Linked DNA regions of Homo sapiens. The protein of the gene in region 4 interacts with the protein of the main gene of each other region in a biochemical or structural test. Each region holds a gene or a part of one and is shown on either strand. Other genes may lie near its edges. The genes, in order: SNTG1, PDZD2, PDLIM1, FAT3, GRID2IP, RADIL and PDZRN4.

Evidence for each region.
Region 1: the proteins of FAT3 (region 4) and SNTG1 interact in a test that uses a peptide from one of them, tested with the Homo sapiens proteins (one large-scale study listed by IntAct).
Region 2: the proteins of FAT3 (region 4) and PDZD2 interact in a test that uses a peptide from one of them, tested with the Homo sapiens proteins (one large-scale study listed by IntAct).
Region 3: the proteins of FAT3 (region 4) and PDLIM1 interact in a test that uses a peptide from one of them, tested with the Homo sapiens proteins (one large-scale study listed by IntAct).
Region 5: the proteins of FAT3 (region 4) and GRID2IP interact in a test that uses a peptide from one of them, tested with the Homo sapiens proteins (one large-scale study listed by IntAct).
Region 6: the proteins of FAT3 (region 4) and RADIL interact in a test that uses a peptide from one of them, tested with the Homo sapiens proteins (one large-scale study listed by IntAct).
Region 7: the proteins of FAT3 (region 4) and PDZRN4 interact in a test that uses a peptide from one of them, tested with the Homo sapiens proteins (one large-scale study listed by IntAct).

Annotation. Positions count from the first base shown.
Region 1 is NC_000008.11:50,698,407-50,701,906, reverse strand, and holds part of SNTG1 (gamma-1-syntrophin), read right to left. Parts: intron 1-3,500. UniProt on the Homo sapiens protein: Adapter protein that binds to and probably organizes the subcellular localization of a variety of proteins. May link various receptors to the actin cytoskeleton and the dystrophin glycoprotein complex.
Region 2 is NC_000005.10:32,083,131-32,086,630, reverse strand, and holds part of PDZD2 (PDZ domain-containing protein 2), read right to left. Parts: intron 1-3,500.
Region 3 is NC_000010.11:95,281,004-95,284,503, reverse strand, and holds part of PDLIM1 (PDZ and LIM domain protein 1), read left to right. Parts: intron 1-3,500. UniProt on the Homo sapiens protein: Cytoskeletal protein that may act as an adapter that brings other proteins (like kinases) to the cytoskeleton. Involved in assembly, disassembly and directioning of stress fibers in fibroblasts.
Region 4 is NC_000011.10:92,227,818-92,231,317, reverse strand, and holds part of FAT3 (protocadherin Fat 3 isoform 1 precursor), read right to left. Parts: intron 1-3,500.
Region 5 is NC_000007.14:6,496,278-6,499,461, forward strand, and holds the end of GRID2IP (delphilin), read right to left. Parts: intron 1,952-3,184; coding exon 1,787-1,951; intron 1,569-1,786; coding exon 1,497-1,568; 3' UTR 501-1,496; downstream 1-500.
Region 6 is NC_000007.14:4,796,717-4,800,216, forward strand, and holds the end of RADIL (ras-associating and dilute domain-containing protein), read right to left. Parts: coding exon 3,455-3,500; intron 3,054-3,454; coding exon 2,914-3,053; intron 2,768-2,913; coding exon 2,662-2,767; 3' UTR 339-2,661; downstream 1-338. UniProt on the Homo sapiens protein: Downstream effector of Rap required for cell adhesion and migration of neural crest precursors during development.
Region 7 is NC_000012.12:41,194,820-41,198,319, reverse strand, and holds part of PDZRN4 (PDZ domain-containing RING finger protein 4), read right to left. Parts: intron 1-3,500.

The DNA.
Region 1 (3,500 bases), on a different chromosome or scaffold from region 4:
TGCATTCCAGCGTGGGCAACCAGAGGGAAACTCCATCTCAAAAAGAGGAAGAAGAAGAGGGAGAAGGAGGAGGAGGAGGAGGAGGAGAAGAAGAAGAAGAAGAAGAGGAGGAGGAGGAGGAAGAGGAAGAGAAAGAAGAAGAAGAAGAAGGAGAAGAAGGAGAAGAAAAAGAAAAAGAAGAAGAAAAAGAGGAAGATGAAGAGGAAGAGGAAGGCAAAGAAGAAGAAGAAGAAGGAAGAAGAAGAAGAGGAAGAAAAAGAGGAGGAAGAAGAAGAGGAAGAGGAACACGAAGAAGAAGAAGAAGAAGAAGAAGAAGAAGAGGAAGAAAAAGGTATTATATCACAATAGATTGAAAAGCTAGAGAAATGTTCTCTAGGAAGTAAATTTTAAACAGTGGCTGAAAACGAGTAGAATATCAAAGATAAAGTATAGAAAAAGGGTGTTCTTTCCAGAGAGTGGATGGGACTGGCTGGGGCCAAGTCAGGCATTTCAGAAATTCAAAGAAAAGGAGGCAGAAACATTGAGAGCTGAAGCTAGGGAAGGACATGGGATGATTGATCTGGTTATAAATTTTGGACTTGAACACAGTATAATGACAAGCTACTATAGCAAAAATTTTAGTATGCCCTCTCTTTATACTGCAGATATTTCAACATCTACCTTAGCTTTTTAAATTGATAAATTGGCAAAAATCTATAACTAAACGTTGCAGTTTCCAGAAACCTTGCCAATTTTATGGTTTATTAAATTGCCCTTCATTTTCCTTATAATAAAAAATATTATCTAATGTCATTATTAGTCAGAAAATTTTGTTATTTTTTCCTTTTCATAAATCACATGTAGCAATAGGATCTTAAAATGGACTTCATGTAAGATTTTCTATTCTCTTAGCAAAACTTTACTCCTTTGCTCTTTTAAAACTCAATTTAAGATCTTCTGTTATATTACCCAAGTCGTGACTCTCTCTCAGACAAAGCATCCTCTAATCAACTCTGCAAATATAGTTTCAGCATCTCTGAAAACTTCTTGCCATTTCCTGTTGTTATTTATAATATACTTCTCATGAACTGACTCACACTGCAAATGGCATCTGAGCACCCAGGTCTCATTTTAGTGAGGGAGAGAAATATGTTAAAATAACGAGCATATGACAGTGCTATAGAGGTAACATGCTAAGGAAGCAGAATAAGGAACGATAAATCATCTTGAGGGAAAGTAGGAGGGGGAAAGTTGTATTGTAGGGAGAGACTGTAGTACCATCAAGGACTTAAAGACAAATGCAAGAGCAACCTGGTGCAAGCCTGAAAAAGACCAGGTGATCCTGCTAAGAAATTCATAGAATGCACCTGCCAGGAAAAGATATTGGAGAGTTAAGTGAGAAGGGGGCAGCATAGACTCTAAGCTTTAGATGGCTAAGAGTGGATGGGTGGGAGGAGGAGAAACTTTGGAAAAAGCAGGGGTTCCTTTATCAGAAATTTAGTGAAAAGTGACTATAGCTCAATCATTTTAAAGATCTACTTTCAACATAATCATCTAAAATCATTGACACTAGATTTCTTTTACTAGAGTTTCTACCTTTGCTGCCTATAACATTTCAAAAGATTGTGTTCCTTTACGGTTGCAGTCATTATCAAGTTATATGCAAGTAATAATATATATATAACTAACTGAAAAACTAAATAAGATACTCTTAGAGACTGGCATTGACTAGAAGTATTAGTATAATAAGGAGTATTTACACGATTATCCACATAGGTTTAAATAAGAATGTATATATTCCTCTTTCTCACCCTCATTCTCTCTCTAACACACATGCAGGAGCTGTTATAAGGTGATAAGAACAAAAGTTCTAGCTTCAGAATTCTGTCTTGATTTGAATCTCCTCTCTTTTATTTATTAATAGGTAATCCTTGTCAAGTTGATTACCATATATATAGCTTCCTTCACTCATCACTAAAGTGGAAATAATTAATTGATCTGATGATTAAATAAGATACTATATTTAATTCTTTGCTTAGTATCTAATACTTGGAAGTACTTAATGTTGGAAATTTTTGTTGTCAGTATTGATTCAATAAAATAAATACAGATAAATATTCGTATCATTTCCTAACTTGCCTTCTATGGCTTGCTCTCTGCATGCATTTCTCTTTTGTCATAGTTTGACTTATGCCCCAGTAGAAAGAATAGCCTCCAGAATACTTTTTTGCCAACTGGAAAGTATCATTTAATAATAGTAATGATAATAATAATAGCTAAACATATCAAGAACTCATCAGTTGCATTTTTCTCAATTTTCTCACTTCTCCAGAAGTATCTTCTATTTTGTTAGATTTGTTCCAAGTTCTCTCAGATTTATAAAGCAATATTACAAAGAAACAACAGGTTTTTTTTTCAAGATGGCTGACTAGATGCTTTTCCAGGGTACTTCATCCACTTAGAAGAATGACAATGGTGTGTAGACAATCACACTTTGCACATATGAAAGCAAAATCAAATATTGGGACCCCAAACTCACTATACCAAAGGGCTAAGTTTAGGTAGTTAGTCATGAAAAAACTGCCTTCCTTTCATTCCCAAAAAGCTGTAATTTCATGTTTACTTTATGTAAAATGTAGCTTTTCTGCTCATTAGTAAGATCCTCACAAGAATGTGACCACTTATCTCATTGCCTACCCAGACTTTTTTTCTTTCTTCCTCTTCCTGCTTGCTTTTTCCCTGTTAAATATTGAAGTTCCCAGAACCCTTTTTAAAAAAAAGCACAGGGTACAGATCTCCTTGTGATTTGTGTTTCTTTTTCCCAGGCATGTTCTCAACCTTGGCAAAATAAATCTCTAATTGATTAAGATCCACCTCAGTAACTTTTTTGTTTACAAACATATTATCCAAGAGAGAACACAGGAGTTCAACAGTAACACACGAAGAAACTCCAAAATCTGACCAGAAAAAGAAGAACAGTCAGCCTGTGTGGCTGTGGGACTGGCTGAAAATGAGAAGAGAGTAAATTCCCAATATGGGAGAGGGTGAGTGAGTATCTTTCTGTGGTCCAATTTCCCACTATAGAATCATATAATTCAGGCCACGGTAGAGCACCATGACTTTTCTAAGCCCTAGATCTACCTTGGGATGTGGCTGGGAGACTGTAAGAAGTACCTGCTCTGGGAAGTGTCCCATGCACTTCCCGAGACCTTGGAACCTACAACAGAACACCATTCTTGATCCTAGCTCTTTGCAAGCTGTGCACAGTCCTGAAAACTAGCAGCAGTGGCAGCCTTTGTCATTAAAGAGGCTCTAACAGTATCCTGGGGATCTGGTGCTCAAGCAGGGAAGAGGTTCCCACAGCCAGAACCGAGAATCAAGTATGGCATGGGCTCCAGCCATTGGCATGCTGGAACCAGGCTCACCCCATCTTTCACTTCACCCCCTTCCCCCACCAGTACAGGAGGGGATTTGTTTGGGAGGCATAGTGTTGGGCTGTGCAGTGACTCCTAAGGCCTGGG
Region 2 (3,500 bases), on a different chromosome or scaffold from region 4:
TTGTCTTCCTGGTTTTCTCTCTAAAATTATAGAGTACCCACATCTAACAAATACCACCCTGCTTTAGACGCTCTAAGAGAACTCAGATTAGCCGGCAGAAGAAACATTTACATCTGCCCATTTTTCTCTCTTTTGGTATTTCTATGATGGCAGATGTTCCTACCACAAAGAAATGATACATTTGATGTGATGGATATGCTGATTACCCTGATTTAATCATTGCACACTTGGGTCTCTTTATGCCATTCACCCTCTGATGGCAAAGCCGCAAGCGTCAGGCTCTTGTTCTATTTGGTTCCCTACTCCTGCGTGGATGCAGCAGGGCCCTCATGGACCTCTCAGTCCCAGTATCTGGCCAGTGGTGTGTGGGTTTGGCTCACACTGGGGGATGTGAATGATGTACTTCAGTGTAAAACAGTCCAAGTGCCGAGCTCAAGAGGCTTCCTTTTTAGTGCAGGGGCTGAGGCTAACTAGGGAAAACATACAGAATACGAAAGCTGGGATACAGGTCTACACCGAGCTCTGGCTGTCTTGACGAATTCAGAGGAGTGGGAGAGTGAGAAGCCAGATTATCCCAGGAAGACTTGACAGAGGAGGTGGGGACATGAATGGGGCTGACAAGGGGAGTTTGGCCAGAGAGTGAGGAGGAGGAAGGTAAGGAAGACAATGGAAGAGTACCGTTAAAATGTCCATACTACCCAAAGTCATCTATAGATTCGGTACAATTCCTACCAAAATTCCAATGACATTTTTTACAGAAATAGAAAAAAAAAAAACAGTTGTAAAATGTGCATGGAACCACAAAGGACTCTGAATAGCCAAGGCAGTTTGAGTGTAAAAAAAACAAAAGACAAAACAAAACAACAACAACACAACAAAAACAGGGCTGGGCATGGTGGCTCACGCCTGTAATCCCAGCACTTTGGGAGGCCAAGGCGGGTGGATCACCTGAGGTCAAGAGTTCGAGACCAGCCTGGCCAACATGGTGAAATTCCCGTCTCTACTAAAAATACAAAAATTAGCTGAGTGTGGTGGCACACGCCTGTAATCCCAGCTACTTGTGAGGCTGAGGCAGGAGAATCGCTTGAACCTGGGAGGTGGAGTTGCAGTGAGCCAAGATCATGCCATTGTATTCCAGCCTGAGTAACAGAGCAAGACTCCGTCTCAAAAAAAAAAAATAATAATAAGGTATTGCATTTATTGAAATAGCTAGAAGAGAGAATTTGGGATGTTCCTACCACAAAGACATGATACATTTGATGTGATGGATATGCTAATTACCCTGATTTAATCATTGCACAATGTATATATGTACTGAAGTACCACTTTGTGCTCCATAAGTATGTACAATTATGTGTCAATTAAAAAAAAAAAAAGGCAGCTGGGCACGGTGGATCACGCCTGTAATCCCAGCACTTTGGGAGGCCAAGGCAGGTGGATCACTTGTCAGGAGTTTGAGACCAGCTTGGCCAACATGGTGAAACCCTATCTCTACGAAAAATACAAAAATTAACCAGGCATGGTGGCATGCACCTGTAATCCCAGCTACTTGGGAGGCTGAGGCACGAGATTCGCTTGAACCCAGGAGGTAGAGGTCAGTGAGCTGAGATTGCACCACTGCCTTCAAGCCTGGGCAACAGAGCAAGACTCTGTCTCAAAAAAAAAAAAAAAAAAAAAAAAAAGGCAACAGAATGAAAGCAGAGAAGCAAGAAAGAGCCTGAAATCTTGGAGGTGGCAGGGCAAGGGGATGTGTGCCAGTGGACAGTGGGAAGTCATCTAGGAGGTGGGTTCCAACAGCCACTCACTCCTGAAAGTGCCTGTTCATAAGGCCCTGCATAGTCTTGGGCTAATCTTCCACCTCAGACACACAGCATCTTGCAACAGGGAAAAAAAATCTGGCATCAGAAAGAACAAAGCTATTTTCTTAGGAACTATGGGTCTGAGGTTGGAGTGAAAAATGAAGTTCCATGAAAGCTCTTGGTTTGAGAATTAAGTCAAACCAACTCTTCCCCAAATATTATGTTCGTTCCACAGCTCTCACATAAAATCATCTTAATTGCATTTTTTTAACCTGCTGACCTTGCTATGTGAATAATTAAGAACTAATTATTAGGACTCAGCCCTGTGCTAAGAGGTTTTCCAATAATTAAGGAGTTAACACTGTGCTAAGAGTTTTGTACACATTTAATTTTCCTCCTAACACTGAGGTATGTCCTGTGACCATCTGCATTGGAAGGATGAGGACGGAGAAACAGCGTGGTTAAGCAATGTGTCTGAGGTCAGAGTTCACAGGTGGCAGAGCCAGCGGTCGCCCCAGGAAGCTGGCTCCACAGCCCATGCTACTGCCTAAACCCTGACTATGTGGCCTCTGTGTGGAGAGCCCTTGGCAATCAAAAGGTTGGATCGTCGAGATCCCCATGGAGACCGTACTAGCTACTAGCTTTCCAGGCCCACTGTGGAAGGCCAGGGGCCTGCCAAGACTCAAAGCCACGTGCTCTTCTCCTTCTCTGCTCAACCTTTTTTGAACTTCCCCTTAAGCATAATGTTCCTGCTTCTGGTGACAGCAAATATGGGCGGTAGTGCGGGTGGTGGTGGGGAGTAGCAATGACACAAAAGGAGGGGATTTAAACTCTGTTTTTAAATTTCATATTCAGGCCGTGGGCGGTGGCTCATGCCTGTAATCCCAGCACTTTGGGATGCTGAGGCCAGGCAGATCACTTGAGGTCAGGAGTTCGAAACCAGCCTGGCCAACATGGGGAAATCCCATCTCTACTAAAAATACAAAAATTAGCCAGGTGTGGTGGTGCACGTCTGTAATCCCAGCTGCTTGGGAGGCTGAGGCAGGAGAACTGCCTGAACCTGGGAGGCGGAGGTTGCAGTGAGCCGAGATCGAGCCACTGTACTCCATCCAGCCTGAGCGACAGAGCAAGAATCCGTCTCAAAAATAAACAAATTTCATATTCGCTCACTGAATAAACCTAAACAGGCAATTCATGTTAGCAATTTGACTTTATTGCAAAGTCTGTAACTTAAAAGGTCTTCATCTGAGGGAGACGAGGTTACACTGAGGCAGCCTTTGGTTGTCACCTTTCAAGACAACCTTTTCTCTGGAAACGTTCGAAATGCCCAATCATGGGAGGAAGGTTGACTCGTTACAGCACATCCGTGGGGTGGAAGGCCCAGCAGCCTCTCCAGGTGATGTCGGGTGTAGAAGAGCCTGCAGGATAGCAGTGCGGTTTCCTAGAGTAGGCTATGGGTGTGCTGACAGCAGAGTGGTCAGTGCGAGGGACAGCCTGCTAGGTCAGGCCCATGGGCTGAGGAGCAGTCTTACTGATGCCAGCAGGCTGCTCAAATATTATTTCGTGTGGATGTATGAGGTTTAAAAAGGTTGTTAGGTACTGGTGACTACCACAGTGGATTTTTTTTTTTTTTTTGGCAAAAAGACAAAAAAAGCACAGGACTATATATTTATTCACACCCATATACGCACAAGACTCAAA
Region 3 (3,500 bases), on a different chromosome or scaffold from region 4:
CAGGCACCTGTAGTTCCAGCTACTCAAGAGGCTGAGGCAGGAGAATTGCTCTAACTTGGGAGGCGGAGGTTGCAGTGAGTTGAAATCACGCCACTGCACTCCAGCCTGGGCAACAAGAGCGAAACTCCATCTAGAAAAAAAAAATGCATACAGATAGATTAAATATGGTTGATGCAGCAAATAGTTTGCACCCATTTCTTTAAAAAAATAATAAAAAATACTTATGCTTCTGAAGCTGAGCATACCCATACCATATAACCCAACAGTTCTCCTAGTTAAATAGTCAATAGAAACTGGGTCCACATGAGTGCTAAAGGACAAGTTTGAGAATTTTCCAAGCAACACTATTCATAATAGCCCCAAATTTGAAACGATTCACATGTCTAACAGCAATAGAATAGATAAGTAGTGGGTGTAATTATATGGTATAAAACATCACAGCAACAAGAGTGAAGAAATTACAACTATGCACAGTGACATGAAGGAGACACACACACACACACACACACACACACACACACAGAGAAAAAGGCCATACCTAAGAGTGAAGAGTAAATACTGTGTGATTCCAGTTACATAAAATTAGACAGAATTAATCTACAGTGTTAGCAGTCAGGATCATGGCAGACCTTTGCCGGAAGGTCAGTGACGGAAGGCGGGCACAGGGAGGTTTAGCAGTTCAGGTAATGTCCTCTTCTTTATCCCATGCTGTTTCCTTGGGTGTGCTCTGTATGTGAGAATTCAATCAGCTGTATCGTTACCATTTGTGCTGTATACATGTCATCCTTCAGTAAAGGTTACATAGAAGCCCGCGTAATTGTTTAAAAGATCGGACAATATAAACCTACAGAAAGCATAAGGTAAAAGGCTTCCCCAGTCTTACTTTACAGAGGTAAACACAGTGAACAGCTGGCTGCAAACCTTTCCAGACTTTTTCCGCACACGTAGCATTTCTAAAACCAAATTACTATATCTCAGTGAACTATTGGGACTTCATTGCTTTGTGCTTTCTGCCTTATTTTTACTGTAACAAATCAAGAATTAAAGACATCTTAATGTCAAGGGAAAAATACATTTTTGATATCTGCTAGATCTAGTTCAAACCTTATCTTGTCCATTTACTAGCTTGTATGTTCTTGGACAGGTTAACCCCTGAAAATTCAGTGTCCTCATTTGCAATGTGGGAATAATAGCGCTTGTCTTCAAAGGTTGTGGTGAGGATTAAGATGATATATAGAGAGAGCCTAGTGGTACTATTAAACTATTAAATATTAAAAATATTAATGGTAGCTACTATATATTGAGTGTTTATTACGTGCCAGGCATTGTTCTGAACTCTTTACAAATGCAGTCTCATTTAAGCCTTCCAGCAACCTGATGAGGTTGATGCATTATAAATTTCATTTGATAAATGAAGATACTGAGTCAGAGAGAGTAATTCCCTCAAGGTTTAGTGAGTGTTTAGGCTTTGGGTTATGGGTGGTAGCTGTTGGAGCTATTTAAAAGCACGTAGGGTTCATAGGAGCTTGTTTGGAAACTTTTGAGGAACTCGACGACTTCTTGACGGAGTCTCGCTCTGTCGCCTGGGCTGGAGTGCAGTGGCATGATCTCGGCTCATTGCAACCTCCATCTCCTGGGTTCAAGTGATCCTCCCACCTCAGCCTCCCAAGTAGCTGAGATTACAAGCGTGCGCCATCACACCTGGCTAATTTTTTGTATTTTTAGTAGAGATGGGGTTTCACCATGTTGGTGAACAGGCTGGCCTTGAACTCCTGACTTCAAGTGATCCGCCCATCTCGGCCTCCCAAAGTGCTGGGATTACCGGCATGAGCCACCACGCCTGGCCTCGATGACTTCTTAAGAATTTAGTCAGAGTATTCTATTTGGCTACCTGTTTTATTATATTCCTGTCTGAGAAATGGTGGTCGGTCTTTCAGACTGAGAGAGCAGCACGTCTCTTTGAACTGTCACCCCTTAGCACTAATAACTTCTTTTTGCACCATGCATAGTGTGAAGCTGGATTAAGGTGCAACTTATCTACAAGCATCTACCCTATTTTATTGCCTCATTTCCCTGAGAAAATGGTTATAGACTAACCAAGAACATTTTAAAACAGTGTTATGTTTTCAGGTCACCCTGTGTAAATGCATACAGCTTCTGCAGCCATAATATGGCTGTGAAGTCTGTGCCACAGCCTCGGCTCACAAACATACTGAGTCAGAAGATTCTGACTAAAGAGAGTTCAAATTCCACATGTAAATGGCATCCTACAGAGCTGGGTCCTGCTTTATCCCCAGTTTAGAATCTGTTAAATTTGTACCCAAATACCTTGACACAACTGTTAAATCAGCGGAGATTATGCTTAAAGGCATGTAGCATTGCGATTGAACTTGAATCTCACATTTCTTTATCCCAGTTGTATATAATTATTACTATCGTTATTTAGGCTGTCTCTTTCACTTACTTGCAGGCTTGTCTTAGGCTTGTCTTTCACTTAGTTACACATTTACAATATTTAAAACACAAGAACACATATAAGATTTAACAAAAAATTGGAACATGGAAGAGGAAAGAGAGAGAAGTGCCAGGAACTTTAAATCAGTTGGTTCTGTAATTGCACACTACATTTAGCTGTGAGTTTTCTGGCCAAGGGAAAATAGGACCCACGTCGAGTTATTTAGATATCTTGTTTGGAGTTATTATACTTCTACTGGTTGGACGCAGTGGCTCATGCCTGTGAAACTAGCACTTTGGAAGGCCGAGGTGTGAGGATTGCTTGAGGCCAGGAGTTCAAGACCACCTTGGCCAACACAGTGAGACCCCATCTCTATTTAAAAAAAACAACAAAATTACTTATGCAATGCTTCATTTGCATAGCATTTTCAGGGGTGTTAACCAACATTACAGGGGCTGTATTTTTTTGTTTGTGTTTTGTTTGAGACAGCATCCTGCTCTATTGCCCAAGCTGGAGTGTAGTGGTGCTATCATAGCTAACTGCAGCCTCCACTTCCTCCCAGTTTAAGCGATCCTTCCACCTCAGTCTCCTTGAGTAGCTGGGACTACATGCCTGGCTAATTTTTAATTTCTTGTTCAGACAGGGTCCCACTGTGTTGCCCGGACTAGTTTCAAGATCCTGGGCTTAAGCAGTCTTCCTGCTGTGGCCTCCCAAAGTACTGGGATTATAGGCATGAGCCATCCCTGCCTGGCCTATTTTTTTTTTTTTAAGTCTGTTTTGGTAAGAGATAGAGGAATACTATTCTAATGGATATTCCTTTCAAGGGCTTTGTATGTATTTTATAGGAGTATAAGTTCTGCCCTTGAAGGTGTTTCTGGAGGAGCTGAGATTTTAGGGTCTAATTACTTTTTGTCTACCTGATGACTTTAACTTCATTCAGGGAGAGAGTTTAAGGGGAAAAGATAGTCATAGTCATCATCTCTCTTGGTGTTTCCAAACCTGATGAGCATTAACATTTTCTGGGAAGCTTTAAAAAGGTATGGGT
Region 4 (3,500 bases):
TAAGGTAAAAAACCAAGCAACAGATCTAAATGATGAATACCTAAAGGACAGAACACTCTGAGGTGTTCTGTGACAAAGTTAACCTTGAGATTCATAACTGAGTCTCAAACATAGGAAAACAGAGGACTAAGAATACACCATGTGCACCTGCATGCAGGCTCCCAGACACATTCAAAAATCCTAAAAGTTACCTTTGAAATTGGGGGGTGGGAGACCACAAGGGGATAGTGGAGAAAGGACATGAATAAATTCTGAAGTCTTCTCAAAATATTAACTAACATTCCGACAGCCCATTTGGGCTGCCCCATGAATACGTTCTTCCAAAAAGGAGCTCTGCACTGCCCCCTGACAAATGAAGGAATTAATTTATTTCATAGTGCCTTGCATACATTAGGGCTGTAGTAAGAATTATTAAATGGAATTATATTCACTTTAATAACTTACACTCCTCTTAAAAGTTTACTCCACCTCACATTAATCTCTCCCTCCTCCTTGAGGCTCCTGTTCATAGACATTCTTTTGTCAATTAATAAACATTTTTAGATGTGACTTCTAGTGTACACACACAGGCATCTCTCATTTTCTCAATAAACAGCACGAAGCAGAAGCAATGGATATATTTTACTATTCTTTGAATCTTGCCCACTGTCTTGTGAAAGAGGTAGATTCAGTAAATATCGCTGAAAAGAACTTTAAAATAATTTTTTTAAAAAATAAATAACAGGGCTGAGGACGGTGGCTCATGCCTCTAATCCGAGCACTTTGGGAGGCCGAGGTGGGTGGATCACTTGAGGCCAGGAGTTCGAGACCAGCCTGGCCAACATGGTGAAACACCCTGTCTACTAAAAATATAAAAATTAAGAGGGCATGGTGGTGTGCGCCTGTAATCCCAGTTACTCGGGAGACTGAGGCATGAGAATCACTTGAACCCAGGAGGCGGAGGTTGCAGTGAGCCAAGAACACGCCACTGCACTCCAGCCTGGGCAATGGAGCGAGACTCTGTTTCTAAATAAATAAATAACAAAAATAAAATAGGGAAAATAGAGGAGAAAGCAAGACATTTTTTAAAGACAAAAAATTATTTTAAATTCCATGTGACTTTACAGAATTTTAAAAAGGGATATATTTCAGATGTACAAAGGCAAAAGTTAAAGAAACAACTTTCCTTTATTAAAGAGTCTATAATTCACAGTTTTGGAACCCTGGAAGAGCAGAACGTTGAAATACTAACAACTGCTCAAGGACTCCTCTCAGGGTCCTCTGTATGACTTTTCCGCCCACGGTAGGCAACACCTTCAATAATGCATTGTTCAAGGAAGGACAATGCTGTGGCCCTCCTCACACCTCCTCTAGGCTCTCCACATTCATATATATCTATCTGGTGAAGGAAGTAATATTTTGTTTATGTGAAGAGTTTAATTGATTAAGTTCTGAAATCTGTTTTCTATTTTCTATCATCATGCCAGTTAATCCATTCTCAAATTTTCATCCCTTCCACTTAGCAGAAAAAAAAAAAAAAAAAGAAAAAAAATCTAAGTCCTGGAATATGCTAAAATTAAGACTAACCTGAAAATGCCATTCCAATTCAGAACTGCTAGAATGGGTCATTTGTCACTATTACATGTAACTGATAGCCTATTTTGGTAGACCAGAAACTGGCTTGAAGCCACTAGACAAGTGTCAAATATGTTCTCAATAAATGCAGTCTGTGTCATTAAGCTGAATTTCTTTTTCAAGGAAAGGCAGTCTTTCCTGAAAATTATTCTTAGAAATTTGGAGAAAGGGAGGCAATGTAAAAAAAAACAAAAAACAAAAAAAAAAAAAACACGAAAAAACAAAAAAAGAAAACAAGGAAAGGAATAAAGCTTATTAAAGGAGTAGATACCCTGCAATTGACAGAAAACTCAGTAAGTTTGAGAAGCCTGTAGAATTAAATCGACCAAAACACAGAAAAGATATTTACTCTCTGAGTCTTCCCAGAGAAAGTTGTCACACTGTGGTGATCCTCAAGAGGTCAGGATATATTAAAAAACAAAGACCCACTCCTCACAATTTGGGTAGAAAGATGATGAAAATGACATATTCAACAGTTAGAGATCAAAAAAGCATTGCAGAAAATTTCACCAATAAGTAAAACTGCATACACAGGAGTTGTGCTTCCTTTAATATTTTTAAGACCATGCATATCTGTAGAAATCAGAGGCTCTGCTAACTCTAGGAAGGAATTGGGCAGAACACAAATCCTTCACTCTAAGTCTGTCAGATCCCTTTCTTTTAAATTTCCATTCCAATTCTAATGTTTGCCACAATCAGCAAAGAAGTGGTTCATCAATAGTCCTTCTTCAGCAATCAAAGGAAATCAATTCAAATGGACAGGCCCACCTGCTCCCATCAGATGATTCCCTACTCAAGGCTCCTGCAGAAGGAAAAAAAAGAAAAACCTGGGGATGACCCCACAATGGAAAAAAAAATCAAATATCCTCATTACTATCTTTCTCCTTCTTGCCCTAGAGGAAAAAGCCAACCCACCAGGCAACTGGACAGATGTGGGCTATGAAGGAATGCCATACCCCAATGCCACAACTGGTAAAATAAAGCCACAATAGTCCTTTATGCTTTGTGAGCTATTAATATAGCATAACAACGCAACAGCCACCAGGAGCACTCCTCAGACCTGCTGGTAATGACTAAATACCCTCTCCTGCCTGGTAATTGCCTACTTCTTTCTATTTGACATAATTCATCAGCCAGATTAGCTAAGGTCATTCAGGATCGTATGAAGAAGAAAGCAGGGATGATAACATAACCTGACACATCAAAATGTTCTTCTGTGAGCAGCCTGAAGAGCCATAGCTTTACAAAGGCTGTGGGCTAGCAAAATAACCGTATAGCATACAGGTCAGTGGGTATCCACTGTTTATTGCTACTCATTTCATTTTTGAGTAGCTCAGCACAACTGTAATTGCTAGTTAACAGACAGACTGGGTCCTATTAAAAAAATCCCCAAAATGACTCCGCCAGAGACCAGAATAAATAAAATTTGAAAGAAAGATTTCTAAAAGGCTTGAGAGCCAGTCGCTGGTCAACAAACCCTGGCTGTGAAAATCCTGCAGCCACAAGAGATGGAGCCAGCCCAGCAGCTGACTGATTTCTGATCTCTGAGCCAGCTGCCTTTCATGTGGAGTTCTCTGTGTGATTCAGATGATATGAAGACATTATAACTGGACAGTTCTGGGAACTTTCTCATCCCAGTGCACTGTGCACAGAAACTGGCCCCAGCATCACTCATTGTTCAAGTTCCAAAAAGGCAACAACTGAGATTCATGATTGAATATCAACATTCGGTTTAATTCTAAGAGACAACTTTTCTCCTTGTAAAATGTTAAAAAAAAAATAAAAAAAACTTCCCCCACTCCAACCCTATTAAATAAGAAGCACATCAAAGTGCTAAAGTTATTATGCTTTTTTTTTGTCTTTGTCTCTTAGAGCCCTGGTTTCCT
Region 5 (3,184 bases), on a different chromosome or scaffold from region 4:
TAATTTTGTGTATTTTTAGTAGAGATATGGCTTCACTATGTTGGCCAGGCTGGTCTTGAACTTCTGGCCTCAGGTGATCCACCTGCCTCAGCCTCCCGAAGTGTTGGAATTACAGGCGTGAGCCCCCACGCCCTGCCTGCAGAGGTTTTAACTGACCTCCTGACATGTTTCCCAGAGACACAGGCACTGGGAACTTTTGGAAACAATTCTGCTTGAGCTGCTAGGGTGAAATGTACCCCACTAGCCACATCCCCCTTGCAGTATATATTTTGGTTTTGATGTTTTTGTATGGTGCTTGTGTGCAAGGAACAAAAAAACAAAGGTGGCTTCCAAGAGGGGCCTAGGGGAGACTGGGAAGAACTGAACAGGTTCCCAGTACTGCCCAGGTGCAATGTAAGCCATTTGATTGCAGTGGGAGAAAAAGAATCCATGAGACAGGATTAAAGCCCATTTCAGACTTTTCCAAAAAAAAAAAAAAAAAAAAGTGCAACGAGGGAAGCTGTCTGATCCAAGGATCTGTCAATCAGAGAATTTTAAAAAAGGTGAAACAGTTCACACACCCTCCCTCCCTGCCCACCACGCCACCTGCTCCTGCTCCTGGTATCCAGGTAACTCCTGCTATATGCCTAGGCACATGTAAAATGACCATTTGGGTCCCAAACACATCCCAGATTGTGTCATCTGCCCCCACACCTGCCCCGGTCTCATGACTTGCTCCAGGGAACATCACCATCCGTCCAGGTGAGAAGTCTGGCAGTTGGCCACCAGATCCTGCTCACCTCCTGCCTCAACACCTCCCCATTCTGTCTGCTCTACCTTGACCACACCTATTCCACTCCCAGGCTCCCCACTTCCAATTGGGCCACCTCTACACAGGTTTGGGTTTGTCCACTGCATGAAACCTCAATTCCGCAGTCTGACATAGGGGGTCTTCCTTCTCCAGTCCTTCCTTCCCTGCGTCTCTCCCAGGCTTCTCTCTTCCTGTGTCCCTGAAGCCAGCTTCCAAGGCCCAGGCTGGGCGTGCACATCCCCAGGGCCCCTCTACATCCGGCTTTCTGCCCTCTCGCGTCTCGCGCCTGCCTGCAGGGTCGTGCTCAAGGGTGTCGGCCCCCTCACAGGGACCCACTAGGAGCAGGATCAGAAAAAAGGTCCACATGTCCCAGGAATGTGGCCACTTTGTAATCCACCCTCCAGGCCCCCCTGACAGCCTGGGAGCGAAGTGGGAAGTGGGCCCAAGAAGCCGACAGAGCACGGTCCTCCATGTGCAGGCACACTCAGCACCTGCTCCTACAGCATCTGGCTCTGGGCCTGGGGGTAGGAACAAGGGCTGGCAGAGGAGGGCCCGACCACAGCTCGGCGGCTGAGGTAGCTGCAGGAGAGGCTGGCGGTGTGCTCAGAGCCCGGGGCACAGTGGCCCCGGACCTCGGCAGTGTCTGGGCTGCCCTCTCGGCCTCCATCTCCCTGCTCAGGCCGCAGAGGACGCGGTGTGGCCACTGTCACCAGGCCAGGGGTGAAACCATCCCGGAGCTGCGCAGGCCCTCCCCGGCCTGCAGGTCACTCAGCGCTCGCTGGGGAGGGGGAACACAGAGGTAGGGTGGTCAGTGGTCCCAGGAACCTGTGACGCCTTCCCTGTCTCTTCCCACACTAGACAGCCCATCAGGGGGTTAGGGGGACATGTCGCTCACTGGAGCCCCTTTCCCAGCCCTGGCTTCATGGAGGATCCCTTCATTTGGCCTCTGGCCCCCACCTCTCCAAAAGGGCCCCTCAGGGCTCCAGCGAGGCTCACCTCGAATTTGCTCATGAACTCTGCAAAGATGCCGAAGAAAGCCTCAGAGGTGGTGGCCTTGGAATCCTCCCCAAAGAAGGCCAGCGCCTTGCCCAGCTCCTCCATGGCCTCGCGCTGCAGCCCGTCGAGCGCCCGAAGTGCTGGCTGGGCCGTCTCCAGGAAGGACTGACAGGCCTCAGTTAAGGAAACAGCCAGCCCGCTTGTGCCCCCAGGGTCTCAGGTGGTGGCCCGACAGACAGGTCCCTAGCAGCCCTATTCCCGGTTGGCCTGAGTCCTTCCAAGGGCCAGGCCCTGTGTCCAACAGGGAACCAGGCCCTGTTCAGGGACTCTAGTCCCACTGGCCACTGAACTCATCCTGGAACTGGCCACAGCCAGTGCAGCCTCAGGCCATTCACCCCTGTTCTCTCTGCAGGGCCAGGCCCTGGGTCTCTGATCAGAGGCTTCCACTGCCACCTTCTTCCCCAACCACTCATTTACAGTAGGCCCCTCTGTCACTCTCTAGGCCTTACTTTTTTTTTTTTTTTTTTTTTTTTTGAGACAGGGTCTTATTCTGTCGCTCAGCCTGGAGTGCAGTGGTGTGATCACAGCTCACAGATCATTCCAGCCTCTACCTCCCAGGCTCAAGTGATCCTCCCACCTCAGCCTCCCGAGCAGCTGGGACCAGAGGTTTACACCACCATACCCAGCTAATTTTTTGATTTTTAAAATAGAGATGGGGTGTATGTTGCCTAGGGTGGTCTCAAACTCCTGGGCTCAAGTGATCCTCCCACTTTGGCCTCCCAAAGTGCTGGGATTACAGGTGTGAGCCACTGCACCTGGCCTTAGGCCTTACTCTGTTTTCTAGAGCATTTGTCATGATCTGAAATTGTTCATAAGTTCATTTCCTACTGCCTAAGTGAAAGCTCGCTCCCTCCTTGCACCTCCAGGGCTTAGAATAGCATCTGATACATGGTCAGTCTTGCAAAAAGATTCAGTGGCTGAATCGCTATCATTTTTTCAGCACTTAAAATGGTGCCGAGCTTTGTTCCAAGCTTGTTGAATCATCGTTTAACACCTCTATGAGGTAGATTATCTCTATTTTACATGTGAACAAATTAAAGCACACAGGACTTTAGCAACTAGCCCAAGATCACACAGCAAGCACTGTGGTGCCTGAGCCACGGTTGAACCCACCAGGGTCACATCAATTAATGACCACTGTGGTAGAGGTTCTCATGACCCCTCTTTTTCCTGATGAGAAAACTGGGCTCACAGAGGGTAACTGACTTGCCCATAGTCCCACAGCAGGTAAGGAAATGAGCCAGGATTTGGGCCTATGCCTGTCTGATGTGCCAGGTCAATTTCCTTTGCAGAGGCTGCCTTTAATTAATTAATTAATTAATTTTGAGACAGAGTCTC
Region 6 (3,500 bases), on a different chromosome or scaffold from region 4:
GCTTTTAAAACACAAAAACAGGCCGGGCACGGTGGCTCACGCCTGTCATCCCAGCACTCTGGGAGGCCGAGGCAGGCAGATCACCTGAGGTCAGGAGTTTTGAGACCAGCCTGGCCAACATGGTGAAACCTGGTCTCTACTAAAAATACAAAAATCAGCTGCGTGTGCTGACAGGTGCCTGTAATCCCAGTCAGGAGACTGAGGCAGGAGAATCACTTGAACCTGGGAGGCGGAGGTTGCAGTGAGCCGTATTGCACCATTGCACTTCAGCCTGAGTGACCAGAGTGAAACTCCATCAACAAAACAACCAAAAAACAAAACACCCATAAGAAGTGTTACCTTTCACAGTGTTGTAGATTGTCTGGGGCCTGGCTGGGAAGTCGTTCTGCTCCACGTGGTGTCCCCGGGATCACTGGTGGGACTGCATTCGCCTGGAAGCTCAGCAAGACCAGAACAGCCAGTGGCAGCCCTCACCAGTCCCGCACCTCAGCTAGGTGCTTCAGCGGCCAGAGGCTAGCTGGGCCTCCCCGACTCCACGGGGCCTCCCTTCCTTGGGGTGATGCCAAGAGCTTCTTTCCATGGATGCTGAGTTCCAGGAGCATGAAAATAGAAACCAAAGGCCCTTCAGTCTGGCTTGGAAGGTCCCAGAATATCACTTATGCTGCATCCTGTTGTTCGGAGCAAGTCAGAAGGCCGGAGAATATTGCAGGGAAGAAGAGATAAGCCCCCTTCTCTTTGTGGGAGGAACTGTTGGTGGCCACCTTTGGAAATGCCTTGCCACTGTCTTTCCTCTGGCCACAGTCCACACCCCTCCCACATAAAAAATATACTCAACCCCCTTCCACCGTTAAGGCATCAAATCAGAGTCCAGGATCCTGGGATCTGCACCAGGTCCAGAAATGCAGACCGTCCAGAGCTGTGAGACATTCTCGGCAGTGCTAACACACACGTTGTGGGACTCCTAGGAAAAGAAACAGAACAAGGCCAGGCATGGTAATCCCACGCCTGTAATCCCAGCACTTTGGGAGGGCAAGGCGGGCAGATCACTTGATGTCAGTTTGAAATCAGCCTGGCCAACGTGGTGAAACCCTGTCTCTACTAAAAGTACTAAATTAGCCAAGCGTGGTGGCAGGCGCCTGTAATCCCAGCTACTCAGGAGACTGAGGAGAATTGCTTGAACCTGGGAGGTGGAGGTTGCAGTGAGCTGAGATTGCACCACTGCACTCCAGCCTGGGTCACAGAGCGAGACTCCGTCTCATAAAAAAAAATTAAATATTTATATTTTATATAATAAAATATAAAAAATGTTTATAAAATATACGAATATATTACGTATACATGAATATGTAATATATTCATATATAATTATATATTTATATATATTCATATATTTTACATATCTTAAATATATATACAAACACTATATATATATATATATTTTATCCAGTATTTTGGGAACCTGGCAGTGGTCGCCGTTTCGAGCCAGGCGCAATGCGGAGCCGCACACAGAACTGCGGGTCGGCAGAGGGCGCGGGGCGGACGCGCTGCACCTCGCCGTAGCGCACACCAGGGGGCAGCGTGGAGCTGCACGAGGCCCAGGGCCTGGGACAGACCCAGGACACCGATCTGGGGACCCCGCACAGACCTCTGTCCCAGTGAGAGGTGCATCTGCAACTGATGCCGGGACCCTCTTCCCCAGGGTTTCTCTGTTGCTATCAAAGATGACCCTGGGCCACCAGTTCCACCACAGCCAGGAGGGCGCGGAAGCCACCCACACCCAGTTGGTGGAGCTGCTGAGGATGCCCAGCGACCCACGCTGTCACCCCGAGGCAGCAAGTGCCCTGCCCTGGTCCTGCGCATGGTCAGCCAGCTGGTGGAGAGGGACGCTGGCCTCCTGCCCGGGTTAGGGCCGGTGGCCAGGGGGACGCTGGTGAGGATTAAGGGCCTGGGGCCGCCAGCCTGGTATCAGGGCCACGCTGGTGGCTTTAGTAGGGGAGAGGAACTCAGGAGGGAGCAGGAGTCCTGGGAGAGGAAGCAGGGCCCAGGGTGGGCTCGGCGCCTCAGAGACCATCAGGCCGGTCCACTTTCCAACGCCTGGGTGTCTAGACCTTTCTCTGGGGCCTGTGCTGAGCAGCGGGATCAGAAGTCCAGCATCCTCTGCCAGGTCTGGCCCTGCTTCAGCTGGGAGGGGCTGTTGGAGCTGCTTCCTGCAGTGCCCTGTGTCTGGGTGGGACGGGGGCAGGGAGAGTCAGTTCAGATGATCCCCTGATGACAGCTGTCACTGCATTCTCCCGTGCCGGTGGCAGGCAGAGGCCATGGGGAGCCCCTGCGGCCCCTCCGAGCAGCCCACGCCTGCTGCCCGAGTTGAGACCCCAGCAGGGCACCCTCTAAGAACGGGAAAAATAGTTTATTGAACCGTACTTCTCCATTGAAGTCTTTAAACATAAAAGCTCTGTAACAAACATCACAATTTCACGTCATCTGCCATATAAATAGAACCTACACTGAGATGCATGTTATCAACAGGCATGTCCCCAGGGTGAGGCTCCCCACCCGGGACCCAACTTGGTCAGTTACAAAACAGGGACGAAGGCGGGAGGAAGCCCAGTGTCACCAGGTGGGACCGGGTGCCGGGCCTGTGGGGGTGTCCTCGCAGCCCCCCTAGAGAGGGGGCGTGCGGAAATGGATCTTCTTGGCTGTTTCCACGTCGGACTTCGCGACCAGGAACCGCATCTTCTTCCCGCCATGACGGATCAGGTCCACAGCTCTGAAATCCATGCCAGAGGTGGGGGTGGGCAGGAGGGCACCAGGGGAGACCCACAGGGTGCAGCCGGGCCTCTCCTTTACCCCAGGTCCACTCCCCTGAGCAGGGCATCTGGGAGAAGGGGCCGGGCGTGCATGCGGTGGGGGTACCTCAGGTAGCCAAGGCCCAGGAGGCTGCTGCCATTCACCTCCAGGATACGGTCCCCCAGCGACAGGCGCCCGTCGGCCGCTGCGGGGCTGCCCGGGAGCAGGGTCTGGATGTAGAGCCCGGGGGCGCCCAGGTGCGTGTGCTGGGGACAAGCAGAGGCCTCAGAGCTCCGCAGGCCCGACTGGCTGTCCCCAGCGAGGACCACTGCAGCCCCTCCCTTGGCACCTACAGGCCCCCGCCTGGCATCCAGCCAGGCCCACTCATGGTTTCACGCGTCCCTCCAGAAAAGCAGTGGACACCACCGTCCCCACAGGCCCAGGACAGACCCCAAAGGCTTGAGGACAGAGGCAAGAGACAGCAGGCCCAGGGGGCGTGGCCGTTGGACAGGCTGGGTTCCCCTCCCAGCTGCAGAGGCCAACCCCACTCTCCTCCCCGAAGGCCTTCCTGTAGCCACGTGGCCACGCAAGCTGCGGCCAGGCTTGCATGAACAGGCGGGGCCAGGCAGCCAGTATGGGGGTGCGGCGAGGGTCCTGGGCCACTCACCATCCCGTCGATCAGGCCCATCCCCAGCCCGGAGGGGCCTCGTTCC
Region 7 (3,500 bases), on a different chromosome or scaffold from region 4:
GAAGAAAGTGTAAACAAAGAGCCATGAATGATTATCCACCCTTTCCCACTCTGGAGTTATGGTTGCATTGCCTGCTATCAGTATCATAGAAATAAGAGAGGAGACTGGGCACTATGGCTCACGCCTGTAATCCCAGCATTTCAGGAGGTCAAGGTGGACAGGTCGCTTGAGCCCAGGAGTTCAAGACCAGCCTGGGCAGCATGGTGAAACCCCATCTCTACAGAAAATTTTTAAAAAATTAGCCAGGTGAGGTGGGGTGCACCTGTAGTCCCAGCTACTTGGGAGGCTTAGGCTGGAGGATACCTTGAGTCCCAGAGGTAGAGGCTGCAGTGAGCTGTGATCATGCCACTGCATTCCAGCCTAGGTGACAGAGCAAGATCCTGTCTCCAAAAAAAAAAACCCAGAAAAAACAAGGAAAAGAAGAAGAAGAAGAAAGAAAGAAAGAATAGAGGAATCGATGCTAAAAGCAACAGTGAACTTTGTTTCTCAACTCCCTCCCACATACCACTTAGGCATCCTAACATGATGATAACTACAGCAATGGTCATGCCTTCTTCCAGAATTGTGCCCAACCTTCGATAGGATCAGGGATTTTCTGTGATTCCTTTGATTCTTGAAAGAATGAAAAACAGCATGCTTTTATTCAGCTGTATACTGTGGTGAATTCTTGGTGTATGTGAATTTCTGTGATGTTTCAAAATGCCTTCAACAATATCTTCTGCCTTTTCAGTCTCCAGTGATATTTTGACACCTAGTGTAACTCAACTATCACAACTGATTTTTTAAAATTTACAAGCATAAATAGTTTAACAAATATGGATGTGGAAATAGCTAGAAACTGGTTAACATAGTTGCTTGTGGAGACTGACTCCAAAAATTAACTTGCCTTATATTATGTGAAAAATATGACATAGGTTTACCTAATGACAGTAATTTTTTATTCTTTTATTATTCTTGAATTTTATCAATAGAATGCAAATATTAAAAAATAATACGTGTTACTAGCCTTTGTTGAACTGTGGCAAAACTATTATAACTAATATATTATTTATTAGAGTTTATAAAATCTTTTTAACCACCAACAGAACAAAACCTTTAACATGTCTACTTCCTCTTCAAGTGAATAACTTTGGAAAATTTTATTATTTTTTAAAAACAATTCATAAACTTGTATGTGTGCATCAAGCAATTAGCTACAGAAAATATTTTTGAGCATATCTTGACTATATATAAACCATAGAATCTCTTATTGTTTTTATTTTTTATTTCAGTTATATATCAGTAAATTCAAAGCATTTAGTAATGTGTCAGATTGTGCATAAGTCATACGGATAATTTTATAATATATGAACTAGTTTGTACCCTTTACACTGTTAACAAACTTACTTGTTGCACCAGGTTTAAATCAGCATGACCATTTGAAATTCAAAAATTGAGCCATTAAATTTGTTCAATGAACAAATCTTTGATCACAAAACAGAAAATAAATTATTATCTTTACTTTAAAAATCTGTTTTAAAATATGCATCTGCACATTTTAAATTGATAGATTTCTTCTCAATTTCCAATTAGCTAAAAACTGCTTAAAGTTGATTGATATCATAATGACAGAGAAACTAAAATAATGATAAGCATCAAATATTTCTAACTTTAATGATTACATAGGGATCTTTTACAACACACACCATATGCACAAGAAAAAACACACTTCTTGTTTAACTAGATATTAAAGTCACACAAATATCTATTCACTCAAAAAGCCGATAGCATCACTGAACAACTAAGCAAGAGCAATTTATTTCTAATAATCTTCTTTCTAAAATATTTCATGCTATTTAACACACAACATTCTAGAAATATGCACCTCATCTAACCCATTTCTTAACTGCAAATGTGGTCACATTGATCCATTCTACAACTATAGCATATATACATAAAATCAATGTACCCTGGTATAAAAGACACATTGAAAAATCTATATCATTGAGACAAATTTCAAGCTCTAGTCATTAACTGCTAATATATGCAAATGAAAGTGAATAATAATACCGCAGCTAGTTAAATTTCATTTGAATTTCTGTGGTTGACCTCCTTACTTTTTATCTTACAGGGTTTAAATAAGGTTAATCTGACATATATTAGTAACAGTACTATGTAGGTGTCTAGATGCACTTGATTTTCAACCATAGTTTTATAAAATTACCTCTTTAAAAAAAACAGTAGGTTTGTAACCAAATTGTTGTATGACAATATAAAAAATTCTTTTTCTTTTCTAATGTAACATTAATGAAGCATACATAATATTGTCATCTAGCTAGAATAAGTTATTTTTTAAATTGCCAATACGTATTTCTGTTGTGTCTATGTGTTTGTGTGGGTGTAACAATATATGTATTCAGTTCCATCAGTTCTTCTAATAATATCAAATGTAGGAATTTATTTTCCATTGGTAACTGGACAACTTAATATGTTTTTGAGATAATGCAGAAAGTAATAGGGACAATCTTCTGTTTAAAGTATGTTGCCCTTTAGATCATACTGTGCACATTCTAACTTTAGAAGCTACAGCATGTGAATGTTTCCACTAGACAAATTGTCAAGATGAACTGGATAGCAACAGCAAAAGTAGGTCTGCACTTTCTCGGCAACAAAACTGGAAGAATAAAAATCTTGATACAAGAGACCTCTTTAGATATAAATCAAAGTTTTTTTTTTGGCAAAAGATAACTCTTCTTTTTTTTCTAAATTTTGTAGTCGGCTAATTTATAAATGTTGTGTTCTTTTTTCCCAAAACAGCAAACTATTGGGTCTTCTATATTCTTCACTCTTACTCTATGTCGATTCATTAAAAATTCAACTTTGTTTAGTGCACAGAGGATGAATGAAAAGCTAAAACTTTATTTAAAATTTAATATAGAAAATCTGCCTCCATTCTGATAGTTTATATAAGTATTCAGAGAGATAGCACTAGTGATTATATAGCCTAGAGTGAACAGAATTTTTAAAAACAATAGTGGAGTCAAGTAAACCTTCCAAATTCCTATTTATAGCTTCACTAATCCATTGGAAATAAACTCACTGATAAAAGTAACTTAACCATTTTTGGCAACAAAAAGTAATATTATCTTAACCAGTTAATAAAATGTCAAAAGGACAGAGATGGCAGATGGCAGGGACATAAAATTTCATTAACATAACCCAATTTTACTAGCATATAGGTGCTCACTTTATCACCCCCGAATACAACAATACAGTTAAAACATACAAAGAGTTCTCACCAGGTTTTCACAACAAAGAGAAAAAAAGGTATTTCTCTTTTTCTTTCATATAAAAGATAATGACAGGAACAAGGTAGCCATATTACACCAAGAAATATTAAAAGTATTGTATAATTTATTCCAAACTCTACATATAAAATATTAATTACAAATTTAAAATATAATCATAGTTCCTCATCAGAAATGTTCCTCAACAGAGATTTATCATCCTTTTTTGAAATG